7 linked regions of the Homo sapiens genome follow. The gene in region 2 interacts genetically with the main gene of each other region. Each region holds a gene or a part of one and is shown on either strand. Other genes may lie near its edges. The genes, in order: XRN2, MCM3AP, BOD1L1, TCF25, CYB5B, PDCD7 and LTN1.

The links.
Region 1: changes in MCM3AP (region 2) and XRN2 together harm fitness more than expected from each alone (negative genetic interaction), as found in Homo sapiens cells (one large-scale study listed by BioGRID).
Region 3: changes in MCM3AP (region 2) and BOD1L1 together harm fitness more than expected from each alone (negative genetic interaction), as found in Homo sapiens cells (one large-scale study listed by BioGRID).
Region 4: changes in MCM3AP (region 2) and TCF25 together harm fitness less than expected from each alone (positive genetic interaction), as found in Homo sapiens cells (one large-scale study listed by BioGRID).
Region 5: changes in MCM3AP (region 2) and CYB5B together harm fitness more than expected from each alone (negative genetic interaction), as found in Homo sapiens cells (one large-scale study listed by BioGRID).
Region 6: changes in MCM3AP (region 2) and PDCD7 together harm fitness less than expected from each alone (positive genetic interaction), as found in Homo sapiens cells (one large-scale study listed by BioGRID).
Region 7: changes in MCM3AP (region 2) and LTN1 together harm fitness less than expected from each alone (positive genetic interaction), as found in Homo sapiens cells (one large-scale study listed by BioGRID).

The regions. Positions count from the first base shown.
Region 1 is NC_000020.11:21,341,331-21,344,830, forward strand, and holds part of XRN2 (5'-3' exoribonuclease 2), read left to right. Parts: intron 1-2,759; coding exon 2,760-2,878; intron 2,879-3,500. UniProt on the Homo sapiens protein: Possesses 5'->3' exoribonuclease activity. May promote the termination of transcription by RNA polymerase II.
Region 2 is NC_000021.9:46,275,612-46,279,111, reverse strand, and holds part of MCM3AP (germinal-center associated nuclear protein), read left to right. Parts: intron 1-1,394; coding exon 1,395-1,585; intron 1,586-3,500.
Region 3 is NC_000004.12:13,603,726-13,607,225, forward strand, and holds part of BOD1L1 (biorientation of chromosomes in cell division protein 1-like 1), read right to left. Parts: intron 3,465-3,500; coding exon 3,392-3,464; intron 1,360-3,391; coding exon 1-1,359. UniProt on the Homo sapiens protein: Component of the fork protection machinery required to protect stalled/damaged replication forks from uncontrolled DNA2-dependent resection.
Region 4 is NC_000016.10:89,872,412-89,876,391, forward strand, and holds the start of TCF25 (ribosome quality control complex subunit TCF25), read left to right. Parts: upstream 1-1,180; 5' UTR 1,181-1,256; coding exon 1,257-1,448; intron 1,449-3,980. UniProt on the Homo sapiens protein: Component of the ribosome quality control complex (RQC), a ribosome-associated complex that mediates ubiquitination and extraction of incompletely synthesized nascent chains for proteasomal degradation.
Region 5 is NC_000016.10:69,441,619-69,445,118, forward strand, and holds part of CYB5B (cytochrome b5 type B), read left to right. Parts: intron 1-3,500. UniProt on the Homo sapiens protein: Cytochrome b5 is a membrane-bound hemoprotein functioning as an electron carrier for several membrane-bound oxygenases.
Region 6 is NC_000015.10:65,127,309-65,130,808, forward strand, and holds part of PDCD7 (programmed cell death protein 7), read right to left. Parts: intron 1,863-3,500; coding exon 1,724-1,862; intron 1-1,723. UniProt on the Homo sapiens protein: Promotes apoptosis when overexpressed.
Region 7 is NC_000021.9:28,940,878-28,944,377, forward strand, and holds part of LTN1 (E3 ubiquitin-protein ligase listerin), read right to left. Parts: intron 3,028-3,500; coding exon 2,790-3,027; intron 2,460-2,789; coding exon 2,385-2,459; intron 530-2,384; coding exon 343-529; intron 1-342.

The sequences.
Region 1 (3,500 bases), on a different chromosome or scaffold from region 2:
AATAGTATTCCTTAGGTGTAAACTCTGGCTCTCCAATTCAGCATGGAATAGATCTAAATAAATATCTTAAGGTAGCACTTACTGGTTACTCCCTGTTTGTGAACTCAGCAACTGCATGCATTTATTTGCCTTGTGGTATTCTTCCATATTTGAACTTGGTAATCCAAACTCCAGAAGCAAATCAACCTATCCTGCAAGGCTGTACTTTGTCCACCACCTTCCTATTGTAGTGGAAATAGACCATGAGCTCTCAGAATACCCAGTGGGACAGCAACAGGGCTGAGGGAACAGACCCTGATCTAACAGTAGAGGAAGGAACATACACTTTTGCTATGATATATCCAAGGAAATTGAATAAGCTTGGATATTTAATTTCTGTTATTCTGTTAGTTATCCTATTGATGCTCATATGGAACAGAAATAGCTGATGCCCATCATTCAAGATTTTAGTGACTACCATCCCCGCAGAGCAGAACTGAGAGTGACTGGTGGTGTTATATGCCCTGTTGATGGTAGAGTACTTTTTTTTTTAAATCTTGGGAGGCAGGCAGGTTTAAACTTTGCCAGCTGTGGTTGCTTCAGGAAGCATTCCAGTATTATCTTCAGGCCCGGTAGTATTAGGCCACAGGACCAGACTGTAGATCGATAACATCTGCCATAGGAGTAGTAATGGGGAGACTGGTGATGAGGTTGCTTCTTTGATTCTGTCTTAATTAACTTCCCTTGCCACAATTATTTCTATATAGAGGAGGTATGGAATTCGAATCTTTGCAGAGTGGGATTTTCACCTAGAATGTTCTAAATTTAAGGAAATTTTGAAGTCAAATTACCAGTTTATTTAAAGGGAGCCATTAAAGTTACAGATTTCTCGTGTTTTATTTTTCTGAGCTGTTGGGTTGTAGTCTCTAATACTTATCTACTGATGATTAACATTCTTAGTGTTTTATTAAATAGCTTCCATTTCCTTATATTTGTGGTTTTATATTTAGCGTTCTTCAGTGTGGTTTCATTATATCTAATTTGATGAAAAAAACAGCTTAAGAAGAAATTTGAATTTAATATGAATCTGGTATGTTCACAAGGGAATATTTTTGTTGGTAGAGACAGCAGCGGAGATTTAGCATTAAATGGTGAACAGCATTTTTTTCTAGAAAGTATATTATTATTTGTTTTCTAAAGATAGAGTTTATATCTTGTTAGTAATTAATTTTGTTAAAGTTTGCTTTTTACACAACTTCTCTGTAGACAGTTAATGGGAATGTCACTCTCATAATTTAATACAAATGGATTAGTGTAGGGTTGAAAAAACAATAGTGATTACTTACTGAATGGTTAACTACCATGTACCATGTAGGCAGCATGCCAGTAATCTTTCACATGTATTGATGCATTTAATCCTTGCAATAACTTGTAAGGAAACAGAACGTTATCATCCCCATTTTAAGATGAGGCTCACAGAGGTTAAGTAATAAATTGTTCAAGGCCACACAGCCAGTAAAGGTTGAATTTGGTATTTCAGACTCAGATCTGTATGACTAAAATACAACAATACCTGCCTCGTTTTCCAAGTACAACAGTGCCTTCCTGTATTTATTTTTATTGGGTTTTTTTTTGACAATATTGTCTGTACCTTTTCATTAATAACATTGACATTATGTTTTTAAAAGAGATGTGCTCTAAGTTCTATGTGAAATATGATTTCGTATTATTTTAACTTTTCTTGACCTGTGGTATGAACTGTGTTTATGCTGTGGATACTCTAATTATTATATCATTCAAATGGCCTTCTGTGCTCTCAGTTTAAAAAAAATTCAGTTTACTTGAAATAGCTAATATACTGTGAGTAACAGAAGAAAAACTTGACTGTGGAAATGTTTCTGCCCCTTATGTTTTTGGTGATGTGGTCCTTTAGCTTGAGTAACTAAAGTTGCAGAACATTTTCTTTTAATTTTTAAATATTAAAATATGTTAGGGTTATATTAAAATATGTTAATTAAAATTAACGTATTATGTTAATTGAGTTAGGTACAAAGGGAAGATAATACTGAATTTAAAGTGACAGCTAAGTCTTTGAAATACCAATAAAATCTGCATTTTTCTAAGATGACTAATAGATTTTTATTTGTTGATTGATTTTTAAAACTGAACATATAAAGTAATTTAAGTTATCTAACACAGTCTTATTAAACTTGCTTTTCAGAGTGGTTGTACTAGGTTGAAGACTTAACCATTTAGCTGCATTCTCACCAGCATTGACTATTTTATATATTATTACATCTATATTATTATATATTATATGCTATATATGTAATGCATTTTATATATCACATAATTTTTTCCCCTCATAGCTTTGCCATTTGGTAGGTGGCAAATGATTGTGAATTCCTAACAGGAATTGTTACAACTGATTGTCACAAATGATTGTGAACCACCAAAGGAAAATAAAATTCAAGTACTATAATTTTTAAAAATCTATAAAATTAAAACTTTTTTTTTCTTCAGAAACTTTTTTTTTTGCCCTAATAATGTTAATTGTTTTTAGTTTAAGCATAGAAAGTTTGGGTATTACATTACTTCTTTTGAGGGGAAGTGAAATGGAGCAAGATCAGTCTCTGTACCTTCTAAATATGTTTACCATCTCTATGTAGTAGCTTTAAAAATGTTACTGTGAAACATGGTAAGTAGTGGTGGTTGGATGTACCTTCTTATGTAAAATGAATAATGAAATCCTTCTTCTGTAATGTCATCATTGTCTGCAGAGTCCTTCGATATCTCCTAATACGAGTTTCACATCTGATGGCTCCCCGTCTCCATTAGGAGGAATTAAGCGAAAAGCAGAAGACAGTGACAGTGAACCTGAGCCAGAGGATAATGTCAGGTGAAGCCATTTTTTGGTAGCACTTTGTTAGCAAATTGCTGAAATAGATGCAGTCTAATTAATGCTATTTAGCTTAGAGCAGCAGTGCCTTCAGATGCTTGCCTGTGATCTTTTTATCCATCAGTAATTAATGTGGAGGGTTAGAATAGTCAGTAAATTCCAGTGAGATGTGTAAGCTGTAGCTGTTAAACCTAAGTGTCTAGATTAGTATGCGTGCAGGCTTTCGTCCTCCAATCCACTTTTCCCTCTGAGACCAGGCACAAGATCGGCTAGATATCATATCTAGGTGTTTAGCTCTGACTATGTGATCTGAATGTTGCTGTTTGGAGACTGATTAAATTTTCAAGCTGCTTAACCTAGAAAGTTCAGTTATACTTAGACACTTAATATAGTTTGCCTTAATCTTCTCTATTGAAAGAGTTCTTCCTCAAAATGAAATATGCAGAAATCATTCTGTTAAGAGATCAATATGTATGTTTTTTAAAAACCACAGACTTGCATATGCGCAATTATATTTCATGACAGAGGAGTTTCCCTTTAACTGTATACTTCAAATTTAAAATAGGAAGCTGATTCTTTAATTCATCCTGAAGTTTGAGATCATTATATAATAAGATTAACA
Region 2 (3,500 bases):
GTTTCACCATGTTGGCCAGGCTGGTCTCGAACTCCTGACTAGAGATGCATGCCCGGCCAAACCATGCATTTCTAATAATCACTTTCAGCAGTTTCCAGCATTACTTTTTTTTTTTTTTTTTTCCTGAAGAGCTGTCTCCTGGCCGGGCGCAGTGCTCACGCCTGTAATCCCAGCACTTTGGGAGGCCAAGGCGGGCGGATCACAAGGTCAGGAGATTGAGACCATCCTGGCTGATATGGTGAAACCCCATCTCTACTAAAAATACAAAAAATTAGCCGGGCATGGTGGCAGGTGCCTGTAGTCCCAGCTACTTGTGAGGCTGAGGCAGGAGAACTGCGTGAACCCGGGAGGCGGAGCTTGCAGTGAGCCGAGATTGCGCCACTGCACTCCAGACTGGGCAACAGAGCGAGACCCCATCTCAAAAAAAAAAAGGCTGTCTCCTAAAGGAAGGGCAGCATGACTTTTTGCAGGTGCAGCTTATCACAGTGAAGCAGACACGGTCGGCCATGTTAGTTGTGTTAACCGGCATGTGATGTGAAGTGCCCTGGCTACCTTGTCTGTCTGGGGAACTCTGTTCTCAAAGGCTTTTGCTTTTCACACCAGGCCTACTTTGACAGATCTCCGGCTGAATCCATCTTTTCATCTTTTGGCCAATGTATTTTCCTCACTTTCCGTTTTGTGACGAGCAGTTTAGTTGCTGGTTTGACATAATCTTTGACATTCAAGTTCAGAAAATGATGAAAGCTAGAAAATGGGGAAGCTGAGAGAGAATGCCTGATTCCTTTTAGTATGTCCTTCTACCAAAATAATTTCTGTTTTAAAACATGTAGGCTTAATATTTCCTTATGATATTAAAGACTTTTTTCATGCTGAGTTTATTTCTTTGAAATAGAAATCAGTAAGTGTTCATTTTAGCTGTTTAAATGAGCCTATCTTTTTTTTTTTTTCGGGGGGTGGTAAGTTAGAGTCTCACTCTGTCACCCAGGCTGGAGAGCAGCAGTGTAATAATCTCAGCTCACTGCAACCTCTGCCTGCCAGGCTCAAGCAATCCTCTCACCCCAGCCTCTCGAGTAGCTGGGACTAGAGGCACATGCCACCATGCCCGGCTAATTTTTAAATTTTTTGTAGAGATGGGGTCTCCCTATGTTGCCCAGGCTATTTTGTTTTTCAAAAGTATGAAATATTTCAAAATTATATTAAAGTCAGTGAGTAATGTGAATAACGCTTTTGTGCTCATTACCATCCTTATCAAAACTCATCTCATTTCAGTGCTTGTAGTTTCTCAGCTTTAGAGGACCAGAAAATCTTGAAAGATGAGGGGACGTGTTCAGAAATGAAAATGCTCTGAAGGCCTTCCTGGGACGAGGGCCCTCAGTGTGGTGTTTACTTTATAGCTCTCCAGTGAAGAAGCCAAGTCTTCTAAAGGCCCACCAATTCGAGGGAGACTCTTTTGACTCAGCCTCCGAGGGCTCCGAGGGCCTCGGGCCATGTGTGCTCTCCCTCAGTACCCTGATAGGCACTGTGGCTGAGACATCCAAGGAGAAGTACCGCCTGCTTGACCAGAGAGACAGGATCATGCGGCAAGGTATGGCACTTGGTGGCAGAGGTTCTAGGGGCCTGGTGAGGTCGTCATCTTGGGTGCCATCAGGGCAGGAGCAACTCCTTTCCATTGGGCTCTATTGCTGTTGAGTCTCAGAGCCTGTGATATGCTGTGTCTGATCTTCATAGTCTGCCTGTCTTCTTGGAGTGAGTGTTGCGTGTATGTGTACATAAATGTGCAAATATGTTTGCTAATGTATGTATAAAATAGTAGTGGGAGGATGCAAAAGAATGGGCTCCTGTCTGTAGAGGGAGCGGGATTCCGAGGGGCAGAGGTTATGGTGGAGTGCTCCGTCTTGGACAGGGCATTCTTACACTGTTACAATGTTGAACTGTGTGAATGTATTACCTACTAAAAAGTAAGTATTCCATTAACACTAAAAATATATGCAGGGACCAAAAATAAAAGGAAAAAACACAGGTACTTCTCTTAGCCAATTTTTTTCTCTTAAATTTCAGCCGGGCTGGGCATGGTGGCTCACACCTGTAATCCCAGCACTTTGGGAGGCTGAGGCATGAGGGACCACCTGAGGTCAGGAGTTAAAGACTAGCCTGGCCAACATGGCAAAACCCCCATCTCTACAATAAATAAATAAATAATAAATAAGCAGGCTGGGTGCGGTGGTGTGCATCTGTAGTCCCAGCTACCTGGGAGGCTGAGGCAGGAGAATCACTTGAACTGGCGAGGTGGAGGTTACAGTGAGCCGAGATTGTGCCACTGCACTCCAGCCTGGACAACAGGGTGAGATTCTGTCTCAAAAAAAAAAAAAAATGCTGGGCGTGGTGGCTCACGCCTGTAATCCCAGCACTTTAGGAGGTCGAGGCTGGTGGATCACCTGAGGTCAGGAGTTCGAGACCAGCCTGACCAACATGGAAAAACCCCATCTCTACTAAAAAGACAAAATTAGCCGGGCGTGGTGGCACATGCCTGTAATCCCAGCTACTTGGGAGGCTGAGGCAGGAGAATGGCTTGAACCCGGGAGGCTGAGGTTGCGGTGAGCCGAGATTGTGCCATTGTACTCCAGCCTGGGCAGCAAGAGCGAAACTCCATCTCAAAAAGAAAAAAAAAATCAGCTATAGGAGTTTCCTCTTTTTAAAAGCTGTGGATAATTTGAATAATCACCATGTTTCCTTAATATAATAACATATAGTAATAAAAGCTGCCATCAAACATCATATCATTGATACAGTGATTTTTATATTCTAAAAATTATTATTAGGTATTAGAATTTTTCTTTTTTTTTTTTTCCTCGAGATGGAGTCTTGCTCTGTTACCCATGGTGGAGTACCATGACAGAGTGAGCGCAACGTCAGCTCACTGCAACGTCCGCCTCCCGGGTTCAAGTGATTGTCTTGCCTCAGCCTCCTGAGTAGCTGGGACTACAGCCATGCGCCACCACGCCCGGCTAATTTTTGTATTCTTAGTAGAGATGGGGTTTCTCCATGTTGGTCAGGCTGGTCTCGAACTCCCGACCTCAGGTGATCTGCCAGTCTTGGCCTCCCAAAGTGCTGGGATTACAGGCGTGAGCCACCAGGCCGGGCCCAGGTATTAGAATTTTTCAACATGAAAACAATAAGTATATATTTTGAGTGTGAAGTTGTTGCATTTCCTTTTCCTTGCAAGCTACATTGTAACTTAAGTGTAATAGCAGTTTACTCATTCAGGTAAGAACCCAGTTAACGTCCATTATATGATTCTTATATTAAAGTCATGGTGAATACTGAGACAGTTTTAGAATAGTGATATATTTTGAATATTTGCAGTTGTTACAAGTCAATCCTTTTAGTAAACATCCTGCACCATGATTTTTTGTCATTGAGGTCATTACAGGAGTTAGAAAACTCCGGCTGAAAGTGAGGACACTCCCCTGCTTTTATCTGCAGTGAGGGTCTGTGACTGT
Region 3 (3,500 bases), on a different chromosome or scaffold from region 2:
ATTACCTCTGGCCTTTTCATGACTACTGTCAACTTCTTTACCATCCTTGTCATCTGATTTATTTTCGTCCTTCTTTTTTATGTCTTTACTACTATGCTTTAAGCTTCTGCTTTTGTGGCCATCTGACAACTTTCTCTCAAGCCTGGTGGAAGTGGAGTCTTTATCACTCTTATATTTCTCCTTTGCTAATGGTAACTTGGCTCTATGACTAGAATCCTTCTGTGTACTATGTGCTGAAGAAGAAGCAGTCTCTAATACAGGTTCAACACCAGTTTCTTCAAAAGGTTTGTCTTCAACTTTAGACTTACGCTGTTTTTCTGAGTCATTTTCTTCTGTGTTCTTCTCCTTGTCTGGTTTTGGAGTGGTTGCCTGTTTTGTGGCACCTTCTTGTAATTCTGTTTCTACAACTTTTACCTGTTTGCCTTGAGTTTTTGATTTAGACTTCAACACAAGTTTCTCTTCTAACAAGCTCTTTGTTCGTCGTTTCTCCTTGTGAACAACCTCTTCTGGTTTCAAATTACTATCCATGTTAGTGGAGTCCATATCACACTTATCTTCCGAATAACTTTCACTTCTTCTCTGTAATGTGATACCATGTTGCTTGGAACCCAGAGAATCTTTCTGAATTTTAGAATCACTTGACCTTCTTGATTTGTGCTCTGCCTTAGTTTTTTCAGCTGACAAGCGTCTCTCTTTTTTGTTGTTTTCTTTACGAACATTCTCATCTGTTTTTATAATATATTCAGAAACTGGCTTTCCATCTTTGCCTAATACTGATAATTTCCTTTCATTCCTATGTTTACTTTTTCGTTCGGTTTTATCATCTGAAGAAAGCTTTGTTTGTTGACTTTGCTTTTGAATATTTTCCTCTACTTTTAAACCTTTCTCAGAAGAGTGAAGCTCAGTCTCATCACCTGTTTTATGCATACAATCACCTTTATATTTATGTTTCACAGACAATTTGTCTTCCGATGGAGTTTTCTCTCTTTCAGGCTTCTCCTTGGAGGATTTCACCTCTTTCTTAAGTAGGCTTTTCAAATGTGGTGTTTCAGAATCATCTTTCTTTAGATGCTTTTCGTTTTTAAGTGTGCTTTTCTGTTTCTGGGGCTCTTCGGTGCAAATTTCTGAGCGTTCTACTTGCCTTTTTACATCTCTTGTGTCAGTCTCTTCCTGTACCCCCTCCATGATAACAGGGGTAGATGTCCGTCTTTTATGTTCTCTTTCTAATTTGGATTCATTTTTGTTTTCGTCAACTACATGCAAAGACTCTGAAAGTCTCCGGGCAGGTTTACTTGGTTCACTTTTTGCATGAACATGCTTCAGCTCCTTTGAAGAAGAAATTTTTTCCTTTTCACAATGCTGAAAGAAAACAAAGGTTAAAATATGAGAAATACCAAAATCAATTTTTAGATTAAAACATAACATTTGGGTGGATTTAATATGTTGAGTGCTGTCACATATGTAACATCTCACTTAATTCTTACAAACAGCCTGTGTAGGTGTCAAAAACTCACCTGATTTTAAAAAATAAGTATTATTAACTTGATTTTAAGAAGCTAAATTCTTCAAAGAACTAACAGGAGTTTGCAACAACCATATTTTACAATAAAAAAACTAATTCTAAACAATATGAACAATTTTATGAGATTATTTCTCATAGAGATTTATCACAAAATAAAGTTAAATACTTAAAAATATGCCATTAAAACATCAGGAAATTGTAGCTCAGCATGATTCTATAACTTGACACTCAGACCACAAGTAGGTGTGTTAGGAATGAGTTTAGATTATTTCATTCCGAGTCTAGTACTCCTTCCAGTATATCACAGGCACTGATTTGTCTATGAATTCTTCAATTCTGAATCACTAGAACTCACTAATGCCCAGTACTCAATAATAAATATGAGCTGAATAAATGACAGTCAAATGTCCTTTTCAGTCAAAAACATAATACATGAAGGCAATTTAAAATTGAAATATACTGAAATATAGATTTCCTATATTTTAATTTAAAAAGCTGAATTATGTATGGAAACCTCATGAATTTAGGCTACTTGTACAATATTCTACACATGAAGCTTCAAATGTACACAATAACGCACAGTAACCATATCATATATAACATATGTATATGTTTATGTATTCAAAAAAAGATACGGAGAGACAAGAGCATCTAAACCTTCCTTCTGGCCCTGTGGTTTGGCACTAAGTAGGCGATTAATATTAATGAGTGGAGGTTGACTAAATCCACTTCAATAATACTCACTGACTACTAGCTATAATTATTCTTATGCAAATAATGGGCCAAAGTTCAGACGGACCTTTGTGCCTCTAGGTCAGTTTAACACTTCATCTCCTTAAATGTCAACACAAAGATTAATGTACTTCTACTAATAACAGGGTCCAGGACATAACAAGACCTTATTAAATAGCTTAAAATAAAATTCCTCAAAGAACTAACAGGAGTTTGCATCAACTTCACAATAAAAAACTAATTCTAAGCAATGTGAATACTATTTTATGAGATAATTTCTTATAGAGAATTATCATAAAAGAAAGTTAAATATTTAAAAATATGTCATTAAGCCATCACTATATACTTCTAAATACGCCTTTAATTTCTGAGTAAATAAATTAAATTTATGTTTGCTGATGATGAACAAATAATCACTAACATTGCTTTTTCCCTCTGGAAATATTAAGATAGTTTAGCTACAGAACTACAGATAATGTGGTTTTTGTAAAAAAGAATTTTAAAACAGTGAAAGCAAAAGTTTGTCCCACGAAAATAATCCTGAAAGGGGGAAGAAAACATTGTACGTTACTTTTACTGTTTAAAATGATCAAATCTTGGAAACAACCTAAGCGCTAAAATATAAGGACATGCTTAAATAAATTATGGTATGTACATTATATGTAACACTAGACAATCATTAAATAATTAGGATGCCTAGAAGGTAACATGAAATGAGTAAAATGTTAAAAACAGTTTGCCAGATTACTTGTACTCTAAAAAATTATGTGGACCCGTGGATAAGGAATGAGAGGGAATAAAAAGGATAATTTGTTATAGTGGAGGGATTTTAGATTTTAATTTTAGCCTCCCTTTTTCTTTTTTTGTCATTACTGGCATTTTTGTTATTGCAATTATAAGAAATGGGAAAAGAGAAGAAGAGTAGCTATTACCTAGATAAACGACAAATATATAAATCAACTCAACAAAATGGGCAATTTGGGACATAACAAAATGGGGTTTCAAAAATGCTGAATGTAAGTTGACTTTTTATTTGACTTGAAAAAAGTCAAATTACATTCTAAGTTTTACTCCAAAGGAATAAACAGCCTATATCTAACAAAACAGCATTTGAAATGAGGTTTTATTAAGGCATACCTCACTTGTTTTAAGGGTTTCTTTGGAATCTTCTTCATATTGCTGTTTCTTTTTGGAGTTCTCTTCAACATTCCTAAGGGGGAAAGAGTCAAATATAAAGCATGAATCA
Region 4 (3,980 bases), on a different chromosome or scaffold from region 2:
ATGCCTGTAGTCCCAGCTACTCGGGAGGCTGAGACAGGAGAAGTGCTTGAGCCTGGGAGATGGAGGTTGCAGTGAGCCGAGATTGCGCCACTGCACTCCAGCCTGGGCAACAGAGCAAGACCTCATCTCACAAAATAAAATAAAACCCTAACCCATCCTGGGAGGGGCCAGGCCGGCTCACCAGGGCTGCTGCTTGTGCTCATGAAGCCGCAGTAAGTCGGGCAGGAGGCTGCTGGCACCTGTCTTCTCTATGCCCTCCTGTCCCCATGTCCCCAACCCCAGGCACAGGAAGCTGTGCCCTCCGCCCACTGAACCCAGCACTGTCTCAGCCTCATCTACTTTATTTTTTTCATTTTTTTGAGACAGGGTCTGGCTCTGTCGCCCAGGCTGGAGTGCAGTGGCGCGATCTCGGCTCACTGCAGCCTCAGCCTCCCGAGTAGCTGGGATTACAGGCGTGCGCAGCCACGCCCAGCTAATTTTTGTATTTTTAGTAGAGGGAGTTTCACCGTGTTGCCCAACCTGGTCTCGAATTCCCGACCTCAGGTGATTCGCCCACCTTGGCCTCCCAAAGTGCTGGGATTACAAGCGTGAGCACCGCGCCCGGCCCTTAGATCGTGACAAACGCGGGCGGCCTGTCCTAGAACTGTCAGAACCACTGTCCCTAAAGAGGCCTCGGGCGGGCAGTAAGGGCCGCGTCACTCAATGCTGCTCGAGGGGCGGCGGCTCCAGGGCAGAGGCGGGCATCGACGGCTAGATCACTCGAATGACACCCTGACACGAAAAGGACCAACTAGCAACGTCCGGGACGCAGCTGAAATGCTGCAGGCACGGTGCGGGGACAGGCCCCGGCGGGCAGAACGCGGCTGCGGGTTCCGGGCCACATGGATGGGCAAGGCCGGGCAGGGCCGACTGTCGCCGGCTGCGCGCCCGTTACCCCGAATCGAAGCCCGTCATCCCCGCGGGGCACCTCTCCATGCCCGGTGCGCACGGCGCGCAGACACCCAGCTCTCCAGAGACCTGGCCCGGACCCCCCGGAGCCCGCCCAGACGCCGCCGCTGAAGCGGGAAAGTTCCGGAGAGCCGCGACGCGCAGGCGCCGCAGCCAGGTCCTGCCCCCACCCCTCGCGCCAAGAGTGCGCAGGCGCGCAGCCAGCTCCCCCGCCCCCGACCCCGCGCGAAGAGTGCGCAGGCGCGCCGACAGCCGAGTTTTCTGCGCTTCCTTCTCCCTCTCTCCAGACGTCGTGGTCGTTCGGTCCTATGTCGCGCCGGGCCCTCCGGAGGCTGAGGGGGGAACAGCGCGGCCAGGAGCCCCTCGGGCCCGGCGCCTTGCATTTCGATCTCCGTGATGACGATGACGCGGAAGAAGAAGGGCCCAAGCGGGAGCTTGGTGTCCGGCGTCCCGGGGGCGCAGGGAAGGAGGGCGTCCGAGTCAACAACCGCTTCGAGCTGGTGAGGAGCGCGGCGGCCCGGGTGGGGGTGGGGTGGCCCTTGACGTTGTGGGGCGGGGCGAGCGTCCAGCCGGGTCGGGGAGCGGGGTTGTGATGCCAGGGGTGGGAAGGGTGACGTGGGTCCCAGCCGCAGTGGGGAGGGCGGGGCCGTGCGTCGGGGCCAGGGCGACGCGGGTGGGCGGTGGCGTGGGGTGAAGACGGCGGGCCGCGGAGTTAGACTGGGTTCTAACCCCGGTGAGGTGGGCGGGGCTAAGGGATGGGGCGGGGCCGTGCTGTCGGGGCGGGGCGACCGAATGGGCGGGGTTAAGCGGGGTCCGGGTTGTGGAGGGTGCGGGGCCTTGATGCCAAGGGCGTGGCCAACGTCCGCGGGGCCGGGCCACGACGTGGGCGGGATTAAATGGGCCTGCGGCCACGTGGCTGTCGTGGGGCCGTGACGCTAAAGGGCGTGGCTAAAGACGGGGGGGTGGCGAGGCGATGGCGTGGGCGGGGTTAAATGAGGCCTGGGGCCACCGTGGGGGTGGGGCCACGGCGTAGGGGCAGGAGTCGGGTGGGGCTTCCCTTTCTCGAGTCTAGAGGGGCCTTCTCTCGGTTCCAGGGTTGAGGACTTGCCAGGCCTCTGCGAGCATTCTGCTTTAATCCTCACAACAACTCTGCCTAACCCAGGGCCTTGCTCTTCGCGCATCCCCATCAGCCTAACCCAGCGGATTAGTCTTACTCTTTGCTGCATCTCCGGCAGCTCGTTTCTGGCACAGGGAAGTAACAGTTTGACTGTATGGTTTGCTCATGCGGTCCTGTGACGTTTTCTCCTAAGCCCTGGCCTCCGTCTGTAACTCTGCCTCTGCGGGCTCTGCGATCCTCCCACCTCAGCCTCCTGAGTATCTAGGACTACAGGTGGATGTCACCACGCCCGGCTAATTTTTTTTTTTTTTCTTTTTTGTAGAGAAGAGTTTTCGCCTTGTTGCCCAGGCTGGTCTAGAACTTCTGCGCTCAAACAATCTGTCCACCTCAGCCTCACAAAGTGCTGGGACTACAGGCGTGAGTCACCATGCTTGGTTGACTGCCCTTCTCGCATCAAGTCCACCTTTAGTGGTCCCCAAGACCCCCGTCAAGGTTCAGTAATTTGCTAGATTCACAGCAGTTACTGAAAGCTTTTTGTTTTGAGATGGAATCTTGCTCTGTTGCCCAGGCTGGAGTGCATTGGCACAATCCTAGCTCACTGCAACCTTGAACTCCTGGGCTCAAATAGTCCTCTCACCTTGGCCTCTCAGAGTGTTGGCATTAGAGGCATGAGCCACTGTGCTTGGCCCCGTAAGTCTTTTTAAATTTTTGTCAATGTAATTTGTGAAAAATGATATCACATTATTTTATTTTACACTTCTTTGGTAGTGAAATGCAGCACCTAGCTATGTATTCGTTGACCATTTATATTTCTCTTTGTGACAACCTGTTTATATCTTTGCCTTTTTATAGGGGGTTTGGACAGTCTTTTTGCTCGTGGAAGCTTGCTATCGATTGTCTCTAACGTATTTTCTCGGTTTGTGTTTGTTCTTTAACTTCTTTAATTTCTGCGTGCTGAAAGATACTGGAGCCACTTTTCTCATTGTTACACATCCATCTCTCTAGAGTGTCTTCACATAGATATTCCCTGACGTGAGTTTTTTTTTTTTTTTTTTTTTTTTTTTGAGATGGAGTCTCGCTCTGTCGCCCAGGCTGGAGTGCAGTGGCATGATCTCGGCTCACTGCAAGCTCCGCCTCCTGGGTTCACGCCATTCTCCTGCCTCAGCCTCCCAAGTAGCTGGGAACACAGGCGCCCGCCACCACGCCTGGCTAATTTTTTGTATTTTTAGTAGAGATGGGGTTTCACCATGTTAGCCAGGATGGTCTCGATCTCCTGACCTCGTGATCCGCCTGCCTCGGCCTCCCAAAGTGCTGGGATTACAGGCGTGAGCCACTGCGCCTGGCTTTTTTTTTTTTTTTTTTTTTTTTTTTTGGTTACAGACAGGGTCTCACGGTGTTGCCCAGGCTGGTTGCTGGTCTTGAACTCCTGGGTTCAGGTTATCCTCCTGCCTCAGCCTCCTGAGCAGCTGGGACTACAGCATACCCTACCATGCTCAGCTTGTTCTTTTAATGCTTTTTTTTTCCCATTTAAATATTTAATCTTTTTGGTATTTATATTTGTGTTGGTGGGAATTTGGAAAAAGTGTGGTTCATGAGTTGACAGAGTAAGAGTCTGTAAGGTCAGAAACCACACAAACCCTTGTGGACTTTCTGGAGTGAGTTTGAGTGTCAGTAACACTAACAGCCTCCATGGATGAATGACTGCTTATCGTGCTGTGTTCTTAGGAATTTCAGAGAATTTTATCCAGTGGCACACATCAGTCTTAATTTAAGCATTCCATACTTTTTTGCTCTTAAAACTCATATTTGGAAATAATATAATCAAAATGTTTATTGGCATTCTGTTAAATAGCTCTTAATAAACAGAAGTATGGGAGACAGTAAACAGCCAGTTACGACTAAATGGTTATGAATG
Region 5 (3,500 bases), on a different chromosome or scaffold from region 2:
TTCCTGTGCAACCCTCACCTAGATGTCTGCCAGCAGTTGATCTCTCTGCCTTCTTAAAAAGTTATGTAAACTCTTATCTAGAATATCTGGGGTTTTTAGTTCAACTGACTGGACATATACAGTATAGAAACTCATTTTTTTTCAGTGGGTTTGATAATATTCTCAACTCTAGATCAAGAACTTCCCATTACTTAACCTGTCTTTGATGATCCTGAAAGTTCCCTAGATGGGAAATAGATCTGGCAGTATGTCAGGGTCACTAATTTTCCCTGGATAGTATTAAAATATATAGAAGGTTTGCTACTTTTCCTGGCCCTGGATAATCTGTCTGAAAAGAGTTTGTGTGAATGAAGTTTTCACGTATTTGCTCTTCATGTCATCCTGTAGGCTCAGAATGAACAATACAGGGAGATTCATTTTGCTTATCTATAGTTTCTAAATTTTTGGTAATGAAAATTATTACTTTTGTAAAGAAAGTTATAAAAATACTAACAATTAAATATAAAAATGCAGGGTGCTTGGATCTCAAAATAGGAGCTTACTGTGATTAAAAGTCAGACTGCATATAATAATTAGTTATAATTAATAATGCTTTTTCTTTCTTTGTTTACATGAAATCTTTCAGAAAATAATAATGCTTTTTCAAAGATTGAATTTTTGGTAAATGTTTATATTTTGGCTAGCTTAAGTTTTCCCCTTTCTCTGCCTCTCATTTCTAGAGTCACCAGAAGGAAAATGTAAAACATTTTTTAAATGGCTCTTTCCCTGTAAATCATCCAGCACACACACTGCATTTTTTCTAGTTTCAGGCATAAAGGGAAACCTGGCTCAGATAAGAATGATCCTTGCTGCATGCTCAGCGGCTCATATATCTTTCTTTTTAAATTATTATTTTTTACTTTTTAATATTTATGTATTTTTAATTTTTTTAGTGACAGGGTCTCCGTTGCCCAGGCTGCAGTGCAGTGGCGCCATGCCTCGAATTCCTTGGCTTCTGGATGATCCTCCTAATTCAGCTTCCTGAGTAGCCAGGACTACAGGCCACCATGCCTGGATAATTTTTTAATTTTTAAAATTTTTTTTGTGGAGAACAAGGTCTTGCTTGGTTGCCCAGGTTGGTCTTGAATTCCTGGCCTCAAGCAATCTTCCTGCCTTGGCCTCCCAAAGTGTTGGGAATACAGGTGTGAGCCACTGTGCCTAGCTATCCTTTTTTTTTTTTTTTTTTTAAATTCTGAGAGTCTCTAGCTCAAACACAAGTTAGCAGGTTAAGGACTACTCCAAGTTCTGGCAGAGCTAATTTTTACTACTTGGTCTTCAAAAAATAGAGGCTTTTTTAAAAATTTTTTTTGTGACAGAGCTTCACTGTATTGCCCAGGCTGGAGTGCAGTGGTGCGATTGTGGCTCACTGAAAACTTCGCCTCCCGGGTTCAAGTGGTTTTCCCGAATAGTTGGGATTACAGGTGAGCGCCAGCATACCCAGCTAATTTTTGTACTTTTAGTAGAGACAGGGTTTCACCACGTTGGCCAGGCTGGTCTCAAACTCCTGGCCTCAAGTGATCCGCCCTCTTCAGCCTCCCAAAGTGTTGGGATTACAGGCGTGAGCCATGGCACTTGGTCTTGTAACTCCTTTTTGAACATAACTTCAAAGTGAAGGCCTTTGCCCATGAGCTCTTTGACATCATCTGGTGTCCACTGGTGACCCATCAGCTCCAGAACTTTCTACTTTGTCTTGGAAGCTTTGCTGGTTTCTGTGGGCATGGCCATGGCTGCTCTGGTCATCTGCTCCTGCCTCATTTCTTATTGGTCAGTTGCCATTATCTTGGCCTAGAATCACAGTAAATTCTCTGAAGCCCAAATACGTTGAGGAAATACCAGGATGCAGAGCTCATTCAGGGTGGATCTAATGTGAGTAGTTTGATAACTTGCTGCAGCATAGGCTTAAAACCAGAGGGTCGGCCGGGTGCAGTGGCTCATGCCTGTAATCCCAGCACTTTAGGAGGCCGAGGCGGGTGAATCACCTGAGGTCAGGAGTTCGAGACCAGCCTGGCCAACGTGGTGAAACCTTGTCTCTACTAAAAACACAAAAATTAGCTGGGCATGGTGGCAGGCACCTGTAGTCCCAGCTACCTGGGAGGCTGAGGCAGGAGAATCGCTTGAACTTGGGAGGCAGAGGTTGCAGTGAGCCGAGATTGTGCTACTGCATTCCAGCCTGGGCAACAGAGTGAGACTCCGTCTCAAAACAAACAAACAAACAAACAACAACAACAAAAAACAGAGGGTCAGTGGAAATAGGACCTTGGTTGCAACAATGCCTGAGTATGTCAATGTTGATCCATTCACAAGTAAGAATCATAGGGATGACGTTTGTTATATTTCCTTTCATCATGCCTGAGAGCATAGTGGGAGGAAGTGGTGATATTTTTATCCTCTGGGTTGTTGATGTAATATTCTCATGTCAAGAAAAAGACTTTTTGGGAATGTAATTTCCATTTTCACTGAAGGCTCTGCTTCAAATTAGGACTTAACTGTCAGATACTTGCTCCTGGGTGAGCTTCTTGTCGCTCTGTACCAGGATGAACATGTAGTGGCAGATCATATCTGAGAAGAAGCAGATGATAAACATGGGCGGGACCATCCAGTGGCTGACGCTGGAGTTGGACAGTAGCTCCTACCCTCTGTCTTCACTGAGAGCTGGTCTGGCTTCTCCTGGGGTGCCGGGGCTCTTTGGGTTTTCGTCGAGGCCTTCGTATGCTCCTCAGCCTGGGCATTATCTTGGCCTAAGACTGGCCAGGACCCTGCTATAGCCTCGGGCCTAGTGCAGTGATTCCAACTCCTCCAGCTGGGCTGCCAGTGGCCCATGGCAGCCCTGCATCCATTTGATTTTCGCTAACTCTATCTGGAGACTATAGAGTTCTAAACAGAAACCAAAAGCTCCCTGACGTCTTTTTGCTTGTTCTAAGCCATCTCTATTAAGACCATATTTTAGAGTGAAAGTTATTAAACCGTAGAATTTTGTTTGATCACTCTGACCCCCACTTGCTTCAGTGAAAAAAAAAAAGAAGCAGGCTACAAAACATTATGTACTACATGAATTCACTTTGTGAGAACACAAAAAACTTTTATTTATCACTGCCTACCACACAAAATAGTAAGGATTCAATAAAAAATTGTAGACTAATGGCTGAAATGATTGAAAGAATACACAGGAAAAATGAAGTTTTATGCACCAAATTGTTAACTGGACTTATTTCTGTTCCAGGACTCTAGTTGATTATTCTTTTTTCCAAATTTACCACAGCGAATATATAACTTTTACTTAATATTTTAAAAAAGTGTTGTGCTTTCTCTTGTTTATAAGTGGTGAGAGACTGATGAAAGTGAAAGTACTTGTAGAAAGAACTGTGTAGCAAGTCAAAAATTCAGTCATTCCCTGAAATGTTGTAATCTATGAAGGAGTTTTATTGTCCTTTTACTCTGAAAGGCAACACAATAGTTGGGTT
Region 6 (3,500 bases), on a different chromosome or scaffold from region 2:
TAGCCGGGCGCGGTGGTGGGCGCCTGTAGTCCCAGCTACTCGGGAGGCTGAGGCAGGAGAATGGCGTGAACCCGGGAAGCGGAGCTTGCAGTGAGCCGAGATTGCGCCACTGCAGTCCGCAGTCCGGCCTGGGCGACAGAGCGAGACTCCGTCTCAAAAAAAAAAAAAAAAAAAAACTTTCAGCGGTTCCCCAAAGCTTTAAGTATAAGTGAGAACTCTAGCATAGCCCATAAGACAATTTGCAACGTGGTCCTGCTTAAACATCCAGCCTCATCATTCAGCACTTAGTTGGAGGTGCACACATCTTGAAGAGAGAAGTTAGCTGCTCATTTTAAATATGCATGCAACCAGCTGCTACTTACCAAATCATTTTACATTCAAGTCACTTAATGCCACAAAGTCTGTTTATTTCTATAGATAATGATTTTCCTAAAATTTCCTCCTCCTTTTGGACCAAAGTGAGGAAGATTAATATTGGGAAATGCTGGTAAATTCACTTGGCAGAAGTTTACTGAGCACTCACCTCATAGAGGATGTGAGGTGTGGGAATATTAAATAGCTCTCAGGTTTTGCCTTCTAGTGAAAAAGAGATGGGTAGACAAAGCAGATGCTAACTTCCCTCTGATTTACAAATGCCCTGAGAGTACCACAATGGAGGCATCTGTTTCTGAGGTCTGGATGTGAATTAGCCGCTCTGAAGGCTAGTATGCAAAAGCCAATCACTTAGCTAGCAAACGAGCCTGGGTGAATACAAAATGGTCATATTCCAACACAACTTTCTTAAGGGTCTAAAAGAATCCCAGTTTTCATTTACATTTTAAACAACACATGGGAAATCATTTGTTAGAGTGGCATTTGCTAATTTGTACACTCTCAAATATCTCTGGTGAATACCAAAGGCCTACAATCTACTAAATAAATCAGCATGTGGTCCAAAGCAGGTGCAAGTGAGAAGCAACAGGAGGTTACCTCAGCCCAGATCAGGGAAGGATGAAGGATGCTGCATGTGTATTTGGTTTTGAATAGTGAGATCTTAAAATGGCAAAGATGGGACTGAGGGCCCTCCAGATGAACAGAATGACAACAGCTAAGATCCAGACAGGCAAATGGAAAGCACAATTGGGTAACTTCTAGAAAGCCAGCATGGTTGAAACAAACTTCGGTGGAGAAGCTTGAACTGCCTGGCTATAGTGTCTGGTGCTTCCTCCAGAGGCAAGAAGAGACCAGTGACATGAAGGGAAGGTGGGGAAATCCACACAGTCTGCAATCCCTGCCCTGTCCAACCATTCATACCTCTTCAAATAGAAATAATTCAGGTTTGAAATGTATCTGAAGAAGCATGCCAAGTTTTCAACACTTTCTGGAGCAACAAGTAAGGGTGAAAAGCTTTCACTCTGGCACAAGGCAAAGGTGACTAGCCATGACAAGCCCACTCAGAAGAGTGTGGCCAGAAATGCCCAGGGTAGGAATGATAAGTCAAGGGGAAGACAGTGCAGTGGGTTCCCACACTTGCCTCTCTTTTCAATCTGGGCTACCACAGGCTAAACATCTTCTGAGGCTTCCTGCTTCAGAAGTTCTGACCTACTTGCTGACAAGCCCAGTTACCCGACAAGGTGAAAATCATGAAGTTTCAAGTATTTTTCCCTCAATAATATTTGGGGTGGGAGGAGCTAGAGTAAAGAAGGGGAAGGGAACAAGGAAAGAAATGCAAAGCCACAGTTACCTTTCCTCGCTGCAGCCTCTTTCCTCAGTTTCCTCAATTTCTCCAAAGCCCGTAGAATGTCCACCATTCTTTTGGTATCTGCTTGTTTTTTCCTCACTTCAGATAGTACGCCATCAGCGGCTGCTTTGAGTTCCTGCTCCTGGAAGAGAAACAAAGCCCATGAGACCTCGTATTAGGAACAAACTTACAGCAGAGAATAGCTGCCCAGTGGTTAGATTTTAAAGGATCAGACAGTCTCCAGGTTAAGAGAGACTCTATTGAATCTCCATCCCAATTTCTTAGGCCTTGCACAACTCCCCTCTAGCTAAGAGGTTATCCCCCTCCACTGATGGTACAACCTTCATCTTAAAGGAGAACCTCTCCTCTCTGTATCTTCCACATAGCACTGGTTTTGTTTCTTCCTCAGTGTTTCTCAAAGTGTAGTGCAGAGATCAGGTGTCCAACTTACCTTGTTAAGCTGAGACTTGTTAAAAATGCAGATTCCCTAGACCTGAAGATTCAGATTCCCAGGAAGGATAAGGAATGTGGCTGGAAAGGCTGAGACCTCTACAAAGGTCTCTTAGTGACAACCTATGTTTGTGTTCCACTGCTCTAAAGTCCCAAGGATCTCTTCCACATGACAGCCTTTCAAATACCAAAGATTGCTGTCCTACTCTTGACTTAGTTCACATATAGACTAAATAACCCCAGTTCCTCAAGCCACTCCTCATAAGACTCTGTCACCAATATCCTCACCATGGAAGCTGGGCATAATGGCATGTGTCCCTAGCTATTCCTACTCAGGAGGCTAAGGCGAGAGGATCACTTTAAGACCAGGAGTTCAAACCTACAGGCTATGACAAACCCGCTGCACTCCAGCCTGGGCAACAGAGTGAAACTTTGTATTTTTTTTTTTTTTTTTTTTTTTTTTGAGACAGGGTCTCATTCTGTTGCCCAGGCTGGAGTGTAGTGGTGTGATCACAGCATCACCATGCCCAGTTAATTGTGTTTTTTGTAGAGACGAGGTTTCTCCATGTTGCCCAGGCTGGTCTGGAACTCCTGGGCTCAAGTAATCTGCCTGCCTCAGCCTCCCAAAATGCTGGGATTACAGGAGTGAGCCACTTCGCACCCGCCCCCAACCCTCTTTTTTTTTTTTTTTTTTTTTTTGAGATGGAGTCTCGCTGTTGTCCAGGCTGGAGGGCAATGGCGCGATCTCGGCTTACTGCAACCTCCGCCTCCTGGGTTCAAGCGATTCCCTGCTTCAGCCTCCCAATTAGCTGGGTTTACAGGCTCCTGCCACCATGCCCAGCTAATTTTTTGTATTTTTAGTAGGGACAGGGTTTCACCACGTTGGCCAGGCTGGTCCCGAACTCCTGACCTCAGGTGATCCGCCCGCCTTGGCCTCTCAAAGTGTTGGGATTACAGGCATGACCACGGCGCCCAGCCCCAACCCTGTCTCCTTAAAACAATAAAATAAATAAAATAAAAAGTTCACCATGGGTGGTGGAGAGAATCCTCTTGCCTAAAGTGCTCTCCCCCATCTGTCAAATAAGTGCCTGTAATTCCACCACTACAGCTACAGCCAACACCAAGCTGTTTCACTTCTCCATTTGGATTACTCTGTTTCCCTGGAACTGCACCTATTACCTTCACCTGGGTGACTTTTCCTTTAAGACTCAGCTTATAGCCAGGAGTGGTGGTGTGCACCTGTAATCCCAGCTACTCTGGAGGCTAAGGCAGGAGAATCGCTTGAACCTGGGAGGCAGAGGTTGCAGCGAGCCAAGACGGCATCACTGCA
Region 7 (3,500 bases), about 17 Mb from region 2:
AGGAGTTTGAGACCAGTCTGGGCAACACGGTGAAACCCCATCTCTACAAAAATATAAAAATTAGCCAGGCATGGTGGCTTGCACCTGTAGTCCCAGCTACTTAGTGAGAAGATCGGTTGAGCCTAGGAGGCAGAGGTTGCAGTGAGCCGAGATTGTGCCACTGCATTCCAGCACAGGCAACAGAGTGAGACCCTGTCTCAAATAAACAAAATAAAATAAATTTTAAAAGATGAGATTAAAACATAAGGATTTTCCTTTTATTAAACTGAAAGGAAGGTATTTAGAACAGTATCAGAAGCATATTAGGACAGAACTATCGAAAGTTGTCACATATTTATTTACCTGTGATGATGCAGCTTTGAAGAAAGTTAGTATTAATTTCCAAGTGAGAAGGTATCCCAGAACATAACAGAAGTCTTCACTCAGTGGTTTAATAGTAACTATCTGTCCAACAGGAATACACCCCAAAACATTTTCTAGTAAGTCCTCTTGAATGCTAAGAAGAGACATCAGTGCTGCTGGTGGTGACCTAAGAATCAATGATTAAACACCACAAGTTTTCTTTATAATTCATTCCTTAACAAATTGACAGTACTTGTAAACTTCAAGCATTTTAGAAAAATTTCTCTGTTTTCCAAAAAACGTTTTAAAAATTCCCCTCTATTGAGCCAATTTTAACTCCTAATCTCACATAACAGTAAAATAAAAAAGACATATTATAGCACTTGAAGGAAAGACATTTTTAGAAAACGTCTCTTTCAATTTTCTAAGTGAAAAAAAATCACACACCCAGAGAAGCCAAATGATGAGTCCAACGTCTTTCAGTTAGTAGGGGAAACTGTTAGGGATTCTAAATCCTACCCGGCCTTTTATCATCTTATAAAAGACAAAGTGAAGATTAAGACTTCGAACTTTGTCACTTCATTCTAGTTTCTATTTTATTGCATATTATCTACTTAGTACTATTAAGAAATATCACAATGATACTATTAATCGGATAAACACAGAAAATAATTATGTGCCTGTTTAAAAAATCATGATTGTAATCTTTTTAGGAAAATAAATGTACCATTCAGATTAATTCACAACAATGTAAGTTAATTTTCTTCTTTATTGAACTACTCTACTCATTTATACTTTCAGGTGAACTTATGAGATTCTCAAAAAGTAAAATACTTAACTCTCTTCTCCATGATACTCTAGCCTGGTTCTCTCCTTTCACTTCTGTGATCGTTCTTCCCTTGTGGCTTCCTTCTCCCAGCCCACAAGTACAGGCCTTCTCCAAACTTCTGCTCTTAGGTCTTTTCCTTCAACACCTCCATCTCATGTACCCAGCCTTCTATATTCCATACTGATAGTCACTAGATCTTATAAAATACCAGCTCCAAAATCTCTCCACTTTTCACATTGCCCTCCATGCATTGTTATTTAACTTCTGCAATCAGCTCCACCTCTGCTTGCTTCTTTTTACAATTCATGTTTCACATTAGTGTCAGAATCGGCTGGTGGCGCCCTATCTCCTACCAAGTAATGACCAAATCCCCCCAAAAAAGTCATTTTTAAGGCCATTTATTATAGGCCAGGAAGCATTCTGGCCTACAGCATTCTAGCCTATTTCTCTCTCAGAAATAAGAGAGAGAAATTCCTGCCCTCACAGAACTTACATTCCAGTAAAGAAAGATATTATCAATAAAACTATACATTAAGTGGTAACTACTCAATATTCCCCAAGCACATCCTCACATTCATGACTCAGTGCCTTTGTACATGATGTTCTCTTAACTTATGTTGTCTTTCCTGTCCTGCAGAAATGCTACCTAACCTTAAAGGTCCAGTTTAAATGCCTCTTCCTCAAAAGAAAGTCTTCCCTTCCTGATGTACATTAATTGTGCCCTCATACATGCTATCTTATATAGGCCTAACTGACCTTTAAAAAAAAGTTATCTATCCTTTTTCTTAGCACTTATCATATACTATATTTTCCATAACGCTACAGTATCATCTGTATCAGATAAATTCCTTAAGGAAAAGAAAGTGCTCACTAAACACTGCATATTCCCCTCAGCATTTAATTAATACTCTGCACAAAGTGGATGCTCAATAGATACTTGAACCGATACACTCTTTCCACAGCCACCATATGGCCAAAGATAGTTTTACTGAACAGTAGCAAACGGAAAATGTGATTTAAGAACAATTAAGAGAGTGACACAATCTTTTGGGTGAAATCTATATTTCATTTATATCTTACAGATAACTAAAAAGATCTATCTGTAGAATGAATATAACTCTATAGCTTCTGTGCTGCTTCAGTCCTCTAAAGACATTATAAGTGAGATGGATTATAAGAATTTAATAAAACAAATTATTTAAAAAAACCTTACAAGGCTGGCTCTTCTTCTTCATCTCCGTATGACTTTAGATTATCCTGATCATACTGTGGTAATTCAGGCATCAATCTAGAAATTAGAACATTATTTTTAAATATGTGATATTAAACTGTTTATTAAGTCGTGCTCAAGAGCAGAAAGACCAATACTTATTTTATAATGAGTAAATGTTTTAATGAGTTTTCTTTAAAATAACTACTATAGCCAGGACTATTGAAATATAAATTGTGTATAGAGAACAATAACCTAAAAGATGAGGCAACTTAGGGTCCCTATAAGTGAAGCAGTCAGATCTCCTTCTTTTAAAAATTTTACTTTAAATAATTAAAAGTAAAAACTAAGCATATATTCTATTTTTTTAGACCACTGTAACATTGATTCAATTGGATGAATTCTTACTTGTATAGCATATGATAAACAGCAATTTGCACAGGCCTAGCTCTGAAGAGGAGTAATGGGGCCAATGTATTTAACAAAGTCTGGAGATATTCTGGTAAGTTTGTTTTTTGGTCAGCAACTAATCTTGCAGGAAGTTTGTGACTCAATAGCTGTTCCTTTGAGATATACGTTAATGTTTCACACATGGGTTTCAGCATTGCATTCTGAAAGGATGTTTCAGACACATCTTTGTTTTCTCCTAATGACAAAAAGGAAAGAAACATGCACGTCTCAAAAGAAAGTTAGTATAGCTTAAATGATTCACAAACAATCAAATGTCATTTAAGAAAATGAAATAAAAACTAGACATAAACAATAAAGCAGTCTTAACTAGAAACATGAACTGAATATATATTCCAGTTAATCTCAACTGTTTTAATGACTTTTATCTGATCCAGCAAATGTTCAATAGCAAGGTTCTATTCACATCATCCATTCATGTTATCTGAAGTATTATTATTTTAATTTGCAACAGTCATTGGATACCTTGCCATTTTTCAATTTCTGTCTGTAAAGTAAAGCATAGATGATGCTTCTGAGAAGCCAAGCTTTCTCTTCTGGCTTTTTCTTTTACTATTTAGTATTATTTGATTTAAACATCAAAATTTTTGCTTTTGAATTTTTCAGTAAGTCATTTCCAATGAATCAATCTCACTATTATTCCCTTTTTCA